3 separate regions of the Homo sapiens genome follow, and regions 1 and 3 are each linked to region 2. The links come from fine-mapping of genetic effects on gene expression. A gene starts in region 2. Each other region holds a variant in brackets. All regions are shown on one strand. Distances are between the middles of the regions. Region 1 holds the start of CAPN11 (calpain 11). Region 2 holds the start of TMEM63B (transmembrane protein 63B). Region 3 overlaps TMEM63B (transmembrane protein 63B).

Region 1 (5,218 bases), 32 kb before region 2:
TAACTCGTGTTAGGCATGTTTTATGGAGAATTTATTCTGGGCTGGTACTGAGGGGTCAAAGTGAATGCACCCCCAACATGGAGCGTGGAGAAGACCCTCCCATGCGATTCCTCCCCCAGGTTCAGCTCCATGGGCCGCAAAGACAGGAGAAAGTGCCATGAAAAGGGGCCACCAGGTTGATGGGATCATCAGGGAGGTTCTGTGGGGGAATGACTATCCCCCTTTCCCTATTCTAAGCACATCCCATTCCCCTGAGGGTGGGGTGCACTTTGACGTCCTGGTTCTGGAAGCATCAGGGCTGGGAAGCAGGGAAGAGGGTGGGTAGAGCCAGAGTCTGGGAGTTCTCCTCGCTCTTTTCTCCCTCCATTTTCCTCAAACCCTGTCTCTTCTAACCCAAGCCCTCTGGGATTATCTTAGAAATGGTAATGGAAGCTCCCTCACCCCCTCGGGCTATGATTACAGGTGTGTGTGTGTGTGTGTGTGTGTGTGTGTGTGTGTGTGTGTCTTTATTCAAAGAGACTGTGAGGGGGGCTGCGGGGGCGGGGTTAAACAGTGGAGCCCCTTTCAGATGAAGAGGGTTCCGAGGGAAGGGTGGAAAGCAGTCCTGAGAGGGGAGAGCTGAACACCTTCTGTTTCAGCCCCTGATCCCTATCTGTGAAGCTGGCGGATCAGGATGACTATTCCCATCTGAGCTGGGTGGAAGCCAGGGCCTCCACAGAGAGATTGAGTCAGAAGTTCTCAACCCGGGGTGATTACGGCCCCCAGGGAACAGGTGGCAACGTCTAGAGGCAGTGTTGGTTGTCATAACTGGGGCAGGTCTCAGGGGAGCTACTGGCATCTAGTAAGTAGAGGCCAGGGATGCTGCTGGGCGCCCCTCAGTGTAGAGGAAAGTCTCCACAATAAAGAATTTTCCAGTTCAAAATGTCAAGAGAGCTGGGGTTGACAAACCTGGGTTGAGCGAATCATCTAAGGTCATTCACACGATAAGGCAAACCACTCCATGCCCTTGCACCGTGCAGTCACTCCAGGCAGCCTCTACCCTGGCTGCTCCGAGGACTGAGGGTGTTGAGCTCTCCTGGGGGCCTGGAAGGACCAGGGAAGATGCTGTTGTTTGAGAAGACTGAAAGAACATCAGAGGGCAGGCCAAGGCAATTCAGGTTCCATCTTAACTCCCTTGTCTCATTTCCCCAGAGCCCTCTGTCCCCTAGTCACCATCCAGCCCAACAAGTCATTTCTCACTGTCTGGCCCCCAAACCCTGCTTCGAAGCTGCATACCCAGTCCCCAGGGTGTGAGGTCATTACTCAGCTCTGACTTGCAGGAAGGACTGACACACCTATCCACACCACCACAGTTGTCATGGAAAATGTCTTTAAGTTGGGCACTGTGGCTCACGCCTGTAATCCCAGCACTTTGAGAGGCTGAGGTGGGCGGATCACCTGAAGTCAGGAGTTCAAGACCCGCCTGGCCAACATGGTGAAACCCCGTCTCTACTAAGAACACAAAAATGAGTTGGGTGTGGTAGCACATGCCTGTAGTCCCAGCTATTCAGGAGGCTGAGGCAGGAGAATCGCTTGAACCCGGGAGGTGGAGGTTGCAGTGAGCCAAGGTTGGGCCACTGCACTCCAGCCTGGGCAATAGAGTGAGACTCCACCTCAAAACAAACAAACAAACAAAAACACCAAAAAAAAAAAAAACCCAAAAGAAAATATCCCCTTAGAGAGGGCAAAAGATCCAAGCTGTCACATGGGCTAGGAGCGTGAGAAGGCTGAGACAGACAGACCAAGGCTGCCTGTGGGAAGCACAGACAGATGGCCAGAGCAACACAGTAGCTCCCCTTAACCCTAGGGGTACGTTCCAACACCCCCAGTGGACACCTGAAACTGCGGGTGGTACCAAACCCTGTATATATCAATACTATGTCTTTCCTTTATGTACATACCTATGATAAAGTTTAGTTTATAAATTAGGCACAGTAAGCAGTTAACCATAATAAGTAATAAAATATAACAAATACAACAATACAATAACAGTAATGTGAATGTGGTCTCTCTGTCTCAAAATATCCTGATGTTTTCAGACTGCAGTTGACAGCGGGTAACTGAAACTGCGTGGAAAGCAGGGGCTGCTGCATGTTAAAAGGCATGAATGGACAGGAAGCTTTCTGCTGCAGCTGCACATCCTGTCTCCTCCATCAGACTGAGAACCTACAGATCATTTTGTTGTTGTTGTTGTTGTTGTTTTTTGAGGTTTTTTTTGAGGCGGAGTCTCACTCTGTCGCCCAGGCTGGAGTGCAGTGGAGCGATCTTGGCTCACTGCAAGCTCCACCTTCTGGGTTCACGCTATTCTCCTGCCTCAGCCTCCCGAGTAGCTGGGACTACAGGCGCCCGCCACCACGCCTGGCTTATTTTTTGTATTTTTAGTAGAGACAGGGTTTCACCGCGTTAGCCAAGATGGTCCCGATCTCCTGACTTCGTGATCTGCCCGCCACGGCCTCCCAAAGTGCTGGGATTACAGGCGTGAGCCACTGCGCCCGGCCAGATCGTTTTTAACTAAATCAGTTTTATTTTATTGACAAAAAAAGTATATATCTGTTGTATACGACATGGTGTTTTGAAATATGTATTCACTGTGGAATGGCTCAGTTGAGCTAATTAATATCTGCATTACTGCACATACTTGTTATTTGTTTGTGGTGAGAACACTTAAAATCTACTGTCAGTGATTTTCTTTTTTTTTTGAGATGGAGTCTCGCTGTGTCGCCCAGGCTTGGGGTGCGGTGGCACGATCTCGGCTCACTGCAACCTCCACTTGCTGGGTTCAAGAGATTCTCCTGCCTCAGCCTCCCGAGTAGCTGGGATTACAGGCGCCCGCCACCACGCATGGCTAATTTTTGTATTTTAGTAGAGACACGGTTTCACTATGTTGGCCAGGCTGGTCTCGAACTCCTGACCTCAGATGATCCACCTGCCTTGGCCTCCCAGAGTGCTAGGATTACAGGCGTGAACCACTGTGCCTGGCCTCTCTCAGTGATTTTCTAAATGCAATACATTGTTATTAGGGGACTATAGATTTAAGGACAGTTTGATTTCCGGCACTGGGAAAAAACTAAGATGTTGTGTCAGGGAACTTTAAAAAAAAATAAATACTAATAAGTAATAATAATAAATAAATAAATTATATTTTGAGATGAGGTCTTGCTATGCTGACCAGGCTGGTCTTGAACTCCTGGGCTCAGGGCACTTCTGAAGAACAAGGACTGGGTTTGGGGTCACCAGCTAGGCCTAAA[C/T]TTCCTAGGGTCAGGTAAACAGGGAGGGCCTGAGAAGCTGGGAGGCTGGGTCTAGGGGCCCATGGTCTCACGGTGCCCCAGGCTGAGGGTGAGGTACAGGGCTGACCTTCTGCTGGCCAAGGCTGGCTGCCCTCTGTGCACCCTAGCCCCACAGGAACAACTCAGTTCTGCCCAGCCCTCCCCTTCCCCCCAGCCCACTCTCCCCCATCTCCTGGAGTCTGGTCCCAGGCTTGCCTCAGGTAGTCCTGCCCCTGCCACCCTGAGGATCTCATCTTCCTGGGCTGAGGGACCTGCTTTTCTAGGCTTAGGAGAGGTTCTCTCTGTTCCCTAAAGTTTTCTTCTCTACGTGGGCTTTTTCACACAAACCCTTTTCCCCAGCAGCCATGACAGTGGGATGGCCGGCCCCTCTCCTCTCCCCAACTCCAACTGTCAGTGGAGAGGAGAAAGAGTTCCTGCCCGGCCTACCACCCAGTCTGACCACCAGTGGCCTATCCTTCCCCAAACAGTCTGAGAACGAGGCCCAGGTCCTGTCCTTAGGGAGCATCCAGTCTGATGGAAGAGTCACTCTCTGTACCCTCAAGGGGCATCCAGTCTGATGGAAGAGTCACTCTCTGTACCCTCAAGGGGCACCCAGTCTGATGCGGGACACAGCTCCTCCCCTGGGGGGAGGCTCTAGCCTGCAGGAGGTACAGGAGTGGGGCAAGGCCCCATGAGTGCCTACCTGGGGAGTACAGCATGCTGGTGGCTAGCTCGGTGCTTGACAGTTGAAGGTTCTGGTGGGAGGGGGAGAAGAGACCCTCCCCCCAGAACTCTCTCATTGCAGTGGGATTCCTAGGTCAGCAGCCGGTTTAACAGCTGCCTTCCCTTTTCTCCTTCTCAGTAACCCAGCCCCTTACCCAGCTGAGGGCTACCCGCTTTAGGGACAGATGACCCAGCACCCCTGCCTTGCACAGCCTCCACCAGCCTGGCTGTCCTCACTGTATCACGGTCATCCCATCAGGGTAGGTCCCAGTCCCTTTTTTTCAGCCCAAGGTTTCCAGGAAGGGGTTGTCCCTGACACACCAACCTGACCTTTACATCCAGAAAGCCTTCTCATTCCCAAAAGCCCCTTTCTCACTGACATGGCATTTTTCCTGTGTTGCTGTCTTCACATGGCACCCTCCTCTGTGTCTCTTCTTCTTATAAGGACACCAGTCATATGGGGCTAGGGTCCCATGCATTTCAGTATGACCTCATCTTAATTGAACGAATTACATCTGCAACCACCCTGTTTCCAAATGAGGTCACATTCTGAAGTACTGGGGGCCAGGACTTCAACATGCCTTTTTGGGGGACACGATTCCACCTGCAACACTCTCCTTGCCTAGCCCCAGTCTGGCAAGGTTAGGCCACTGGTCTGACCACATGTCCTGCCTCTGCACTGGAAAGTGGGAATGCTTTGAGCTAAGAACTCTGCTCCAGAGTGCAGTCTTCTCTGGAGTGTATGATGGCTGAGGACAGGGACTGTCAAGGTCATCCCAGTGCCCCTCAGCCCTGCCTGGTGCTAATCAGGCACAGAACAGGTGTGAGAGCACCCAATGGGATCAGAGAACCTTGTTCCAAGCTCTGAAACAGGAGCTGACCTTGGGCGAGCCCTCCCCCTTTCTCCTTTCTGGGACTCAATCTCCTCATCTACGAGAATATTAATTATGGTTTGTTATTATGTGCCAAACACTGGGCTAAGAACTTCCTACTTATTTAATCCTTAAAACAGCCAGAGGCCATGACATTGCTATTCCCATTTTATAGATGAGGAAAGTGAGGTCTAGAGGTATGATGCAACTTGCCCAGGGTCACACAGCTGTTAAGCGGTCGAGCCAGGATTTAAACTAATAACTTCAGATTTTTTTTTTTTTTTTTTTTTTTGAGATGGAGTCTCGCTCTTTTGCCCA
Region 2 (5,218 bases):
TTGGGAGGCTGTGGTGGGAGAATCACGTCAGCCCAGGAGTTCGAGACCAGCTTGGGCAACATAGCAAAACCCCGTCTCTACAAAAGATACCCCCCACCACCAAAATTTAGCTGGGCATGCTGGTGCATGTCTGTAGTCCCAGCTACTCCGGAAGCTGAGGTGCGAAGATCACCTGAGCCCAGGGAGTTCCAGGCTGCAGTGAACCAAGATCATGCCACTGCACTCCATCCTGGGCGACAGACAGAGACCGTGTCTAAAAAAAAAAAGGAAAGAAAAAAGAAAAACAGAAAAAGAAAAAAAAGTAGTAAAATAATAGTATTAAATGTTTATTTAACTCTTCTTTTGTGCCAAGCACTGTTCTAAGCACTTTACAAATGTAACTCATTTGCTCCCCATCACAACCCCAGGAGGACACTGAGATACAGAGAGAGTATATGAGCTGCTCAAGGTCACACAGCCAGTCTGTGGTAGACCCAGATAAGGACCCAGGCTGCCTGGCTCGAGTGTATGCTCTTAACCACTGCACTTTGCAGAGTTATCTGCAAACAAGAGCCACTTCCACCAGGGAGCCGGAGGCAGTCAGTTACCACACTGGAGAAATGCCATACCCTATTTCTACCTGCTTGCCTTTCCTCTTGCTTGTAGCTTCCCTCCACTCAGGCCTTGGGTTTGTGATTTCAGGTTCTGAGGCAGGCATAGGGGACAGGCACCATAGTCTGGTGGTTAAAAGCACAGACTCTAGGATGTGACAGACCAGGCTTCTAACCTGGGAAAATTACTTAGTCACCCTGGGCCTCAGTTTCTTCATTTGTAAAATGGGACAATAATCCAGTTGTGTTGTTGTTCTGGGGATTAAACAAGATGACTTATGTAAAGCTCTTAATATAGTTCAAGGCATATAATGGGCTCTAGGAATTAGTTATTGTTATTAATAAGGTATGGAATAAAAGGGGTTGGTTTAGAGAAAGAAAATTGGTAAAAACAAAAATAAGATAAAAACACAGAATGTAACATGATAGAAATATAACAGAGCCCCTCAGTCAGGTTGGGCTTCTTATTTAGACCTAAGGGTTTACACTGTGTTAGGGACTCTGCCACTGAGTGACAGGGAATATTCTCACTCTTTGAACATACCCCATCCATCTGTGGTAGCCTGGGAGGTGGAGGCATGGGAGAGTTATGGGTCAGAAGTTCAGAGATGATAACCCATTATTGATCAATTACCAGGAAGGATGCCAAGCTCTTTACTTCTGTTACCTTGTTTGATTCCCATGATAAAACTTGTAAGGAGGTGGTAGTAACCACACTTTTTTTCTTTTTCTTTTCTTTCTTTTTTTTTTTTTTTTTGAGACAGTCTTGCTCTGTCACCCAGGCTGGAGTGAAGTGCCACAATCTCGGCTCACTGCAACCTCCGCCTCCCAGGTTTAAGCCATTCTCCTGCCTCAGCCTCCTGAGTAGCTGGGATTACAGGTGTGTGCCACCATGCCCGGCTAATTTTTGTATTTTTAGTAGCGATGGGGTTTCACCATGTTGGCCAGGCTGGTCTCGAACTCCTGACCTCAAGTGATCTGTCCGCCTCAGTCTCCCAAAGTGCTGGAATTATAGGCATAAACACTTTTTAATGAAAACTGAGGTTCAGACAGGTTAAGTAACTTGTCAAGGTCACACAGCTGAAGAATAGTAGAGCTAGAATTTGAACGCAGGTCTCTAAGACTCTGCTATACTTGGAGAGAACTTGAATGATGTCCAAGGGGGTTCTTAGTTACCCACTGCCTGCCTTCTGCCTTGCCATGTCCCCATCCACCCACAGGCCAAGACTGCACTGAGTGAGCCAACAGCAGGCCCCAGCATGTGCCACCTGGGGCATGCCAAGGCCTGGACCCTCTGGTGCCCTGGAGGACAATCACGCTGCCAGCACACCCCCACTTGAAGCCTGGCTGACACTCCCACTCCCCACCTCACCCTGGCCTGGGAGGCAGGATGGGCCCCTCTTCAGCAGGTGTTGGGCACAGCCTCATTGCTCCCCGGCTGCTGCAGACTGGTAATGGGTAGGCAAGCCCCAGCCCCCCAGGGCGGTGGAGTGCTCAGGCTTGCCCCGAGCGGCCAGACCTCTGCCCAGGGGACCCAGGCAGGGGGCAGCACAGCGCCCCAAGGGCAGCCAGCCCCTCTGACCTCTCCTCCCCACTTCCCAAGCGTCCTTTCCTTTTCTGGGGAACAAGGTGCCAAGCTTTGGGACTGTCCGCCTTAGGCGGTCAAGACAGCCAGGAGGGACAAAGCGGCGCCCCCTCCCCACAACAGGGCCTTTGCCCCACTCTCGGTTTCGCGTCTGAATCTTTTCCCCACCGCACCCTCCAACGCAGGCCCGGGCGGCTCATGAATGAACTGCACTGTGTGGGGCGCAAGGAGAGGACACGCTCCCGGGGCCGGCCGCCTCTCCAGCCCGCCGACCAGTCAGTCCCCAGAGCCGGGGGCAGCGGCCGGCCTCGTGCCAGCACCTGCGAACCCTGCCCTTGCCCGAGCCCGAGCCCTTACCCCGGACCGGCTTCGGGTGTACTCGCCCCCGGGAGCAGCAGAAAAAATAAAAGGCACAGAAGGCATCGGACTTGGCGACCCCGGGGTCCAAAACTCGGGGGCGGGGGCGGCTAGTTCCCCAAACGGCGGCGGACAGGCGGGGCGCAGCTGGCACCCCCGAGGGTCGCGCAGGGGACGCGCACCTGCACCGGGCAGGTGGGAGAAGAGTGGCACTCGGGGGCCGGGGGCGGGGGTCCCACCCTTTGGGATCTCCCCGGGGCTGGGGAGAGCCGGCGGCGCGTATCTGGACCTCCGGCAGGGGTTGGAGGACTCACATTTGGCTCGGGATGGTGCGGGGTTGGGGGCAGCGCGCGCCACCCCTGGGTCCCGCGGGCCCGGGCACCTCTGGGTCCCGCAGGAGGTTGAAGGGAGGGGACGCGCAGCTGAGTCCAGGTTTTTTCTTTGGGTGGTGGTGGGATCTTCGAAGAAAAGAGCGAGGGCTGGGTAGGGGTCGCGTACTCACCCCCAGGCGCAGACTCGGCTCCGGCTCGGAGCCCCGGGTTGGGGCGGGGCGGGGCTGGGGGAGGGGGAGGGGGAGTCGCTGGGCGGCTCGAGCTCCGGGCTCCTGCGGCGGCCGCGGCAGTGTATGGGGGAGGGGGAGCGGGGGGAGGGAGGGGGAGGGGGCGGAGCCCCGCAGGTCCCGCCCCGCACGCCGGCGCACGCAAGGTGCGCGCGCACTCTCAGATCGCGTCCGCCGGGCTGGGCCTGGCGCGCAGGCGCTAGGAAGAGGCCGCGTGGGGCGAAGGCGGCGCTTGGCTGGTGGGGCCCGCGGCGGGATTTTCCCGGGCGGCGAGAGCGGTATGGTGGGGGGCAGGGGTGGGCGTTAAGTCCTCATTCCCTCCTTCTCCTCTTCCTTTCTCTGCAGTAGGGGAGGCCCACTCCCCGGGGTGAGTGAGGAGAGGCCAGAGTGGGAGGCAGAGCGTCAGTGGGAGGGGTCCCGACGGGGAGGGGGGGGTCCCGACGGGGAGGGGGGTCCCGACGGGGAGGGGAGGCCCCTTACCCGGATCCTCCTCCCTTCCGCTCTCCGTGGGCTGCTTCTGCGACCCCCAAGTCCGTGGCCGGCGCTCACCTGCTTTCCCCGGGTTGCGGCGTCGACTTGGGGAGGGCGGGCTGCGTTCAGCCGTCGCTGGTCACTCCGGAGCGTCTCCTCCGGCTTCTCCGCTTTCCGCGCTCCCCTCCCCTTTCCCAACTTAGGTCTGGAGATGAGTTAGCCAGACGCCTCTGTGGTGTGAGGATTGAGTTTTTGCTTTCACTCTGTCAACGCTGATGAGTGCGCCCTCCCCCAGGCCAGGGGGTTCCCTGGTTTCTTATTTCACCAGAGACTGCATCTACCAGTGATTAAGACTGGAAAGATGAAGGGAGAGACTGAGACTCTTTCTATATATCACCCACACAAATAGATCATAAAGGCACAACGGGCACCAACCTGGTCATTTAATTTCTGGTTCCTGGAGGGGACAAAAAGGAAGTATTGCTTTCCACAGCCGACGATAAATGAACTTTGCCACCGTAAGAGACGGACGGGACTGAATTTATAAAGAGGTTAAAAGGGCATATGACAGACACCTCAGGCTACTTGGGAAACTCTGGGAGTTTGGGAGATAATTAACTCTCAGGGCTGGTGGTGGTGGGGAACTGCCACTGCTGAACAGAAGGACACTGCCCACCTGGGGGGTTTGGATCTTGTAGTTGGTCAGCGTCTCTGCTGTATGCTGGATTTTCAAGAGTTCATTAGTAGCTTGTGGAATGCAACTGTAAGGTTTGATTTATTGCAGTGTTTTTCAAACTGAATCCTATTGGTGAGTTGGAAATCAGTTTAGTAGATCACGGCCACTTGAAATAGAAAATATCAGAGGGTGTTGCACTTAGGGTATTGTTTCTTGACACTTCAGGTGTACACACACGTGTGAGTGTACTAGGAGGTGTTCTACAGTGTGTTTCTGTAGGTCGCAGTGAGAAAAATTTGAAAAGCGTTGTCTCCTGTGCCCTTCTATTTGCCCTCTTGCCTTTCTTTGCCTGAGTTTTCAGTCACTTAAAATTGTCTGAGGATGCAGTTAGCATGCCAGGAATATACAGTAAAGAACAAGGTGGATCTTCTTCACGGAGGTTACTGTGTGAGACGAAAGACAGTTCACTGTTCATCACTGGAAATACTGTACGTGCTACTGAAAAACAAGGATTTTATTGAGGTAAGAAGTTGGTTGGCTTAATTAGGAAGGGCAGTTTTTCAACTGTGAAAGAAAGGAAGATGGAGATGAAGCCCGTTTTTGGTAAAGTGCTTGGTGGGAAGGGTCTTTGTAGGTTTGGATTCTGGGAGTTGTGAAATTGGTGTAATCTGTTGCTTGTGTGGAACAATAAAATTCACTTTGAGGTCAAATAGTATTATAATGGATATCTGAAAAATGGAAGTGGAAGCCATAGTTGTCTGGTTTTTGGATTTCTGAGGATCACTAGAAGGCCTTTTTTTTTTTTTTTTTTTTTTTTTTTGAGACAGTCTCTCTTGCCCAGGCTGGGGAGATCTGGGTGCAGCAGTGCGATCTCAGCTCACTGCAGCTTCTCCTGGGATCTAGCAATTCTTATGCCTCAGCCTCCCGAGTAGCTGGGACTGCAGGCGCGAGCCACCACTCCTGGCTAATTTTTGTATTTT
Region 3 (5,218 bases), 20 kb before region 2:
ACCTTGTGGGTGCCTTTGGGGTAACCCCGCCAGATCCTCTCTCTTCTGCCCCCTCCAGGAGTTGGAAGCTTTGTTGCACCCTCCCATGGGGCTGGCAATGTCTCTCAAGCATACCCACCCCTGCTGTCTGGTCTCTTTCCCTAGGGGCCCCAGTCACTCACTCAAACCGAATAGCTGCCTCAGCCAAGAATTTCTTATCAAAGAGCCAGCGGAAGAAGAGGTCCAGGCTGGAGGGAAGCAGAGGAGAGATGGGGTGGGAGCTGGAGTGGTACAGAACACCAGGGGAGGGGAAGTCCCTCCTCTGTGAGCCACTGGGGAGACTCCCAGACATGGGGTGGGTAGCTCAGGAGGCCTGGGGGTGGCCAGGCTTCCCATCTTGGGCCCCTTGCTTTGTAGGGGAGGTAGGGAGGCTGAACTGCTCTCCTCTCCCTATCCTGCTGTCCCCCTACCCTGGCTCCTGCCCCATCCTTCTCAACTCACCTGCTCAGTCCCAGCGAGGGTAGGAGCAGCACCATGAAGATGAGGAAAGTGTAGCACTTGTGCATGGTTGTCCTGTTCTCCCCAGAGCTGGAGGGAGGGGAGCAGGGAACGGTACAGGTCAAGTGAGCCCAGGCCCCAGACTTGCTCCCCCAACAAGGACAATGTCCAAGGAGTGTCCCCTGGGAAGGGTGGGCCTCCCAAGGTGAGGGTGCTGGGCACTACCCCTTCCCTACCAGCTGTGGGACTGCCCAGGGCCAGGAGCCTGAAGGGCAAAGTGCTGCCCAGAGAGGATGGGTCATTGAGGGCAGGCCACAGCGAGGTGTGGTGTGAGTGGAGGCACCTTACCGTGTCCAGTGGGCTTCAAAGAAGGCTGAGTAGTAGACGATGGTGGGAAGGAGGGCCGAGAAGCACCACAGCAGCAGGGTGGGGAAGAACTGGGTGATGATGGGGTTCTGCAGCAGGGCACAGGGGGGCGTCAGGCAGGGCAGTCTAGGGGGCCCAGGTGGCTTTGCTTATGTGCCTCCTCCCCAGCTGGGCCCTTGGCCTCACAACTCTCAGGGCTCCCATGTTGGAAGCCCAGAACATCCGGAGGGCTGGGGTGAGGGTGGGGGCCAGGGCCATATGTATAACCCCAGGGTGGATAATACTGATAGTCAGCATTTGCTGAACATCTACTATGTTCTAAGCAGTGCTGATGTACTTGCCATGTCTTAATCCTCACAATAATGCTGTTACCCCATTTGACAGATGAGTAAACTGAGGCAAAAAAAAGATTCAATAGCTTCCCTAGCTAGCAAGCCATGAGGTAGGGATTTGAATCCATGCAGTCTGGGTCTTATCTATTATGGTATTATCACTCCAAGTGATTTGCAAACTGTCCTTCTTCAAACTCTGAGGTTCTAAAGAGGTATGCTCTATGCGTGGGAGGAGAGGTGAGGGGAGGCCAGGCAGACATGCATGCCACCCTACTGTCATCGGAGCAGCCCTGCTTTTCCACACTGGGTTTCACACCGATAAAGAGATCAGAATCCAAGTCCAAAGCCACTGATCTAGTTGAACCTTTCCATTTTTTCAGTTAGACTGAGGGGTGAGGGAAGGGGACTTCTCTGAGATCAGGACTAAATGCAGGCTCTCTCTCTTCCCTGGGTGTTTCTCCAGGTGTTGCACACCTGAGGGTGGCCTCTCTCAGGGGGAAGGTGGCAGGGAGCCCAAGGGAAGTGCACACAGGGGTTTTTGGGAGCTGGTTGGTGGCACGGGGTTGGAACAAGCAGAACGGGCTGGGCTGGGCAAGTGGAAGAGGGATCAGGGCCTGGTATCTGTGTGTTGTGACCCAGCGTGGAAAGTGACAGGGGCATGAGGCCTCACGTTGAGGTACTCCACAGGCTTGGTGACGTTGAACTTGTCCATGGTGGTGATGATGATGGCTGGAGTGGTGAGGAAGAAGAGGAGGATGAAGAGGACGACATTGATGACCAGGCAGCGCAGCCACCAGATGAAGCCTCGGATGGAGAGGTGCTCCCTGGCAAGGTGGGGAACCGGTCAGTCCAGGAACCAAGGGCAGGATTGGCCCCCAGTGACACCAAGACACTCCCTCTCCTCCGCCTACCTACTGAGCCCATCCCAGGCCCTGGAAAGCCTGCCCTGACACCTGTTTGCTCACCAGTAGATGTTCTGAGGGTCAGGGGCATAGGACACGGTCCAGTTGGAGATGTGCAGGGACTCGCTGCAGGATGAGGGGCGTGGCTCCCCACGGCAGGTGCAGCCCTGGCATTTACACACGTTGAAGTCCTTCAGGATGCTAGAAAGATGGGCACTGGTTACCACAGGCCCACCTGGAGGCCACACTGCTGGCAGAAGGCCATGAGCACAGGGGTCAGGGAGCCCTGGAGGGCTGCTCAGGGCCGAGGGCCGAGTTGGGGACTCACATGGCGGTGATAGTCTCATTGTGGAAGGTGACAAAGGCCATGCCAAGAGGCTTCTCATTCACCTTCTCCTTCTCCCGCTTGTAGTCTTCCTTCAGCTTCTGCTCCAGCTTTGTGTAGTACTCAATGGCCTCCACCTTTGTGGGAGGGTTAGGGACAGGGCCTCTAGTTGGAAAGCCAGGCTGGGGCCTGCAGCATCCAGCCCACGCTGACTTGGGGCTTCCTACAAGCCAGGCACTGCTCCTCTAAGCATTTTTTTTTTTTTGGAAACAGCGTCTCGCTCTGATGCCCAGGCTGGAGTGTAGTGGTGGAATCTCAGCTCACTGGAGCCTCAAGCTCCCAGGCTAAAGTGACCCTCCCACCTCAGCCTCCCAAGTGGCTGGGAATACATGTGTGCAGTACCATGCCTGGCTAATTTTTGTATTTTTTGTAGAGATCAGGTTTTGCCATGTTTCCCAGGCTGGTCTCAAACTCCTGGCTCAAGTGATCCACCTGCTTCAGCCTCACAAAGTGCTGGGATTACAGGCATATGCCACCGCACCCAGCACCTCTAAGCTT[C/T]TTTATATGTATTACTCACTTTACCCTCACAACACTCTCATAAGGTGGGTACGTTAACCCCATGAGGAAACTGAGGCACTGAGCAGTAAGCAACTTGCTCAAGTCCCCAGAGTCAGTGGGTACAGCACAACATTGTCCTTTTGGCTGACATTTTCTAATTTGAGGTTTGAAAACCTGGTCACTGTAGGGACATTAGACAAACCCAACAGTGGGAACTGAGGCTTCAAGGATTCCAGGGACAGGTGGGGACTCACTGAGGGCAGGGCCCCAGCCTTGCCTGCCCAGGACCTGTCCAACTTCTCCCGACTCAACAGCCAGCCCGCGTCATACCTGCTCACAGCCTCGCACCACACAGCAGCAGAGGTGGCCACAGGGCTTGGGGTTGATCATGGTAGGCACGTTCTCCTTGCTCTGGAGGTTTGTGAAGTACAGCTTTCCCCGCTCGGCCTTCTTCCTGTGGGACCCAGATGCCTGGTCACCTACATCTGGGGCTGGGGCTGGCTCAGCTTGGGGGTCATCTAGCTCACTCCCCAAGGACAGGAGCTGTCTTGTTCTTGTTTAGGATACATGTTTCAGATGTGGCCACATCCCAAGGTCTCCCCACCCATCCCTAGAGGGCCAGAAGTTCTTCCTGCAGGCTGACCTAAATTTCTCATACTGTAGCCAAAGAAGGGCATGTCCTCAGATGCAGTGGGGACCATGGGCCCCCCTTCCCCTCACAACAAACTCTAACCTCCAGGCCTTGCTCTTTCCAGAGCTGAATTAACAGGCACACCAACGAGTTGAATTAAAATCAAATGCCCTAGGAAAAAATCTAGAAGGGGAGCCTGTGTGGTAGCCAAGATGTCCTCCACAATGGCAGGGGGCCCTTGGTGTCACCCTCCTCTGCCCCCAGTCCCTTACCTCTCTGCATCGAGGAACATTAGGCGAGCCACGTTGTAACACGGGCGGGCTTCGAGAACTGTGCAGTTGGGGTAGGCTTCCCTGAAACACAGTTCATGTATCATCTTGTGCAGGGACCCCACCCACCTGCCCCTGACTTTCATCCATGACCCCATCACCTTCAAGAAACACATCTCTGGCTGGACGTGGTGGCTCACATCTGTAATCCCAGCACTTTGGGGGGCCGAAGCGGGAGGATCACCTGAGGTCAGGAGTTCGAAACCAGCCTGGCCAACATGGTGAAACCCTGTCTCTACTAAAAATACAAAAATTAGCTGGGCATGGTGGCACGTGCCTGTAGTCCCAGCTACTCAGGAGGCTGAGGCAGAAGAATTGCTCGAACCCGGGAGGTGGAGGTTGCAGTGAGCCAAGATCGCGCCACTGCACTCCAGACTGGGCGACAGAGCGAGACTCCATCTCAAAAAAAAAGACAAAAAAACCCACATCTCCAATTCAAGCTGCCTTTTTCTTAGTCTACAAAACTGAGAGTTCCCCAAGAATAAAGCTTTGGAGTTCCTCCTCATGCTTATCTGAGTGGGGAAGTGGGAGCAGAAGGCCTGAGCACTGTGTGACTGCAGGCTGGGCTAACAAACCAGGATGTGTAGGGACATACTGCATGCAGGTAGGGAAGCCAGGGCTATGGTCTGATTCCTGTCCAGGGCTGTGACCTTTAGGTTGAAAAAAATTGCATCTAGTCATAGGCTATATAATTCCTTAACCCTGTTCCCAGAAGACCTGGTCACAGCCCAACACTTAGCCTTGACCACAGACTGACCTCAACCAACCCATAACCCAGTCTACAAAATGATCTCTAACTTTGGCCCAAGACAGACAAGAGATTGATCCTGACCCCTGACCAGGGTGAGACTGACCTGTAACCCTGGCCAAAGACTGACCCTTAAGCCCACCCTGGCCAAAGACTGACCCCAGACCTGTTGCCCAGACCCAAGACTGACCTCCTAACCCTGACCCCAGATTCATCCTTACCTTGACTTAAGACTGACCAGAGAGAAACTGGCACTGACTCACTAGTACCTGGTACCAGGCAAGGCTTGAAGAATGCTTGCTGAGTGAAGGAATAGTTCATTTTTTTGTTTGTTTGTTTGTTTCAAATATTCTGAGATGGGGTCTTGTTGTATTGCCCAGGCTGGTCTTGAACTCCTGGGTTCAAGTGATCATCCTGCCTCAGCTTCCCAAAGTGTGGGCATTACACTAGTGAGCCACCATGGCTGGAGGGAATAGTTTCTTTTTGTTTTTTGTTTCGTTTTTGTTTTTGTTTTTGTTTTGTTTTGTTTTTGAGACGGAGTCTCACTCTG

What was found. PIP is the estimated chance that this variant, and not a neighbour inherited with it, causes the effect.
Region 1: its variant is fine-mapped to the expression of TMEM63B in whole blood (TOPMed, PIP above 0.99).
Region 3: its variant is fine-mapped to the expression of TMEM63B in testis (GTEx, PIP above 0.99).

What each region holds. Positions count from the first base shown.
Region 1 is chr6:44,157,655-44,162,872 of GRCh38, reverse strand. CAPN11 (calpain 11) reads right to left here and starts at 4,053. Exons shown (of 23, transcript NM_007058.4): 1 at 4,009-4,053. The coding sequence starts at 4,024. LOC107986599 (a long non-coding RNA gene) reads left to right here and starts at 4,270. Exons shown (of 3, transcript XR_002956350.2): 1 at 4,270-4,288. RefSeq lists a silencer at 1,234-1,323 and an enhancer at 2,707-2,876. The variant C/T (reference allele first, on the strand shown) is at 3,288.
Region 2 is chr6:44,125,495-44,130,712 of GRCh38, reverse strand. TMEM63B (transmembrane protein 63B) reads right to left here and starts at 3,159. Exons shown (of 24, transcript NM_018426.3): 1 at 3,035-3,159. It overlaps MRPL14 (mitochondrial ribosomal protein L14), which reads left to right and starts at 3,261. Exons shown (of 3, transcript NM_032111.4): 1 at 3,261-3,369. RefSeq lists silencers at 2,479-2,638, 2,819-2,928, 2,969-3,368, 3,389-3,438, 3,469-3,528.
Region 3 is chr6:44,145,573-44,150,790 of GRCh38, reverse strand. TMEM63B (transmembrane protein 63B) reads right to left here. Exons shown (of 24, transcript NM_018426.3): 11 at 3,864-3,944; 12 at 3,291-3,414; 13 at 2,406-2,539; 14 at 2,141-2,278; 15 at 1,846-1,999; 16 at 826-932; 17 at 481-567; 18 at 162-227. Among named protein-coding and RNA genes, the nearest start is that of CAPN11, 11 kb to the left of the region's middle. RefSeq lists an enhancer at 1,452-1,621. The variant C/T (reference allele first, on the strand shown) is at 2,961.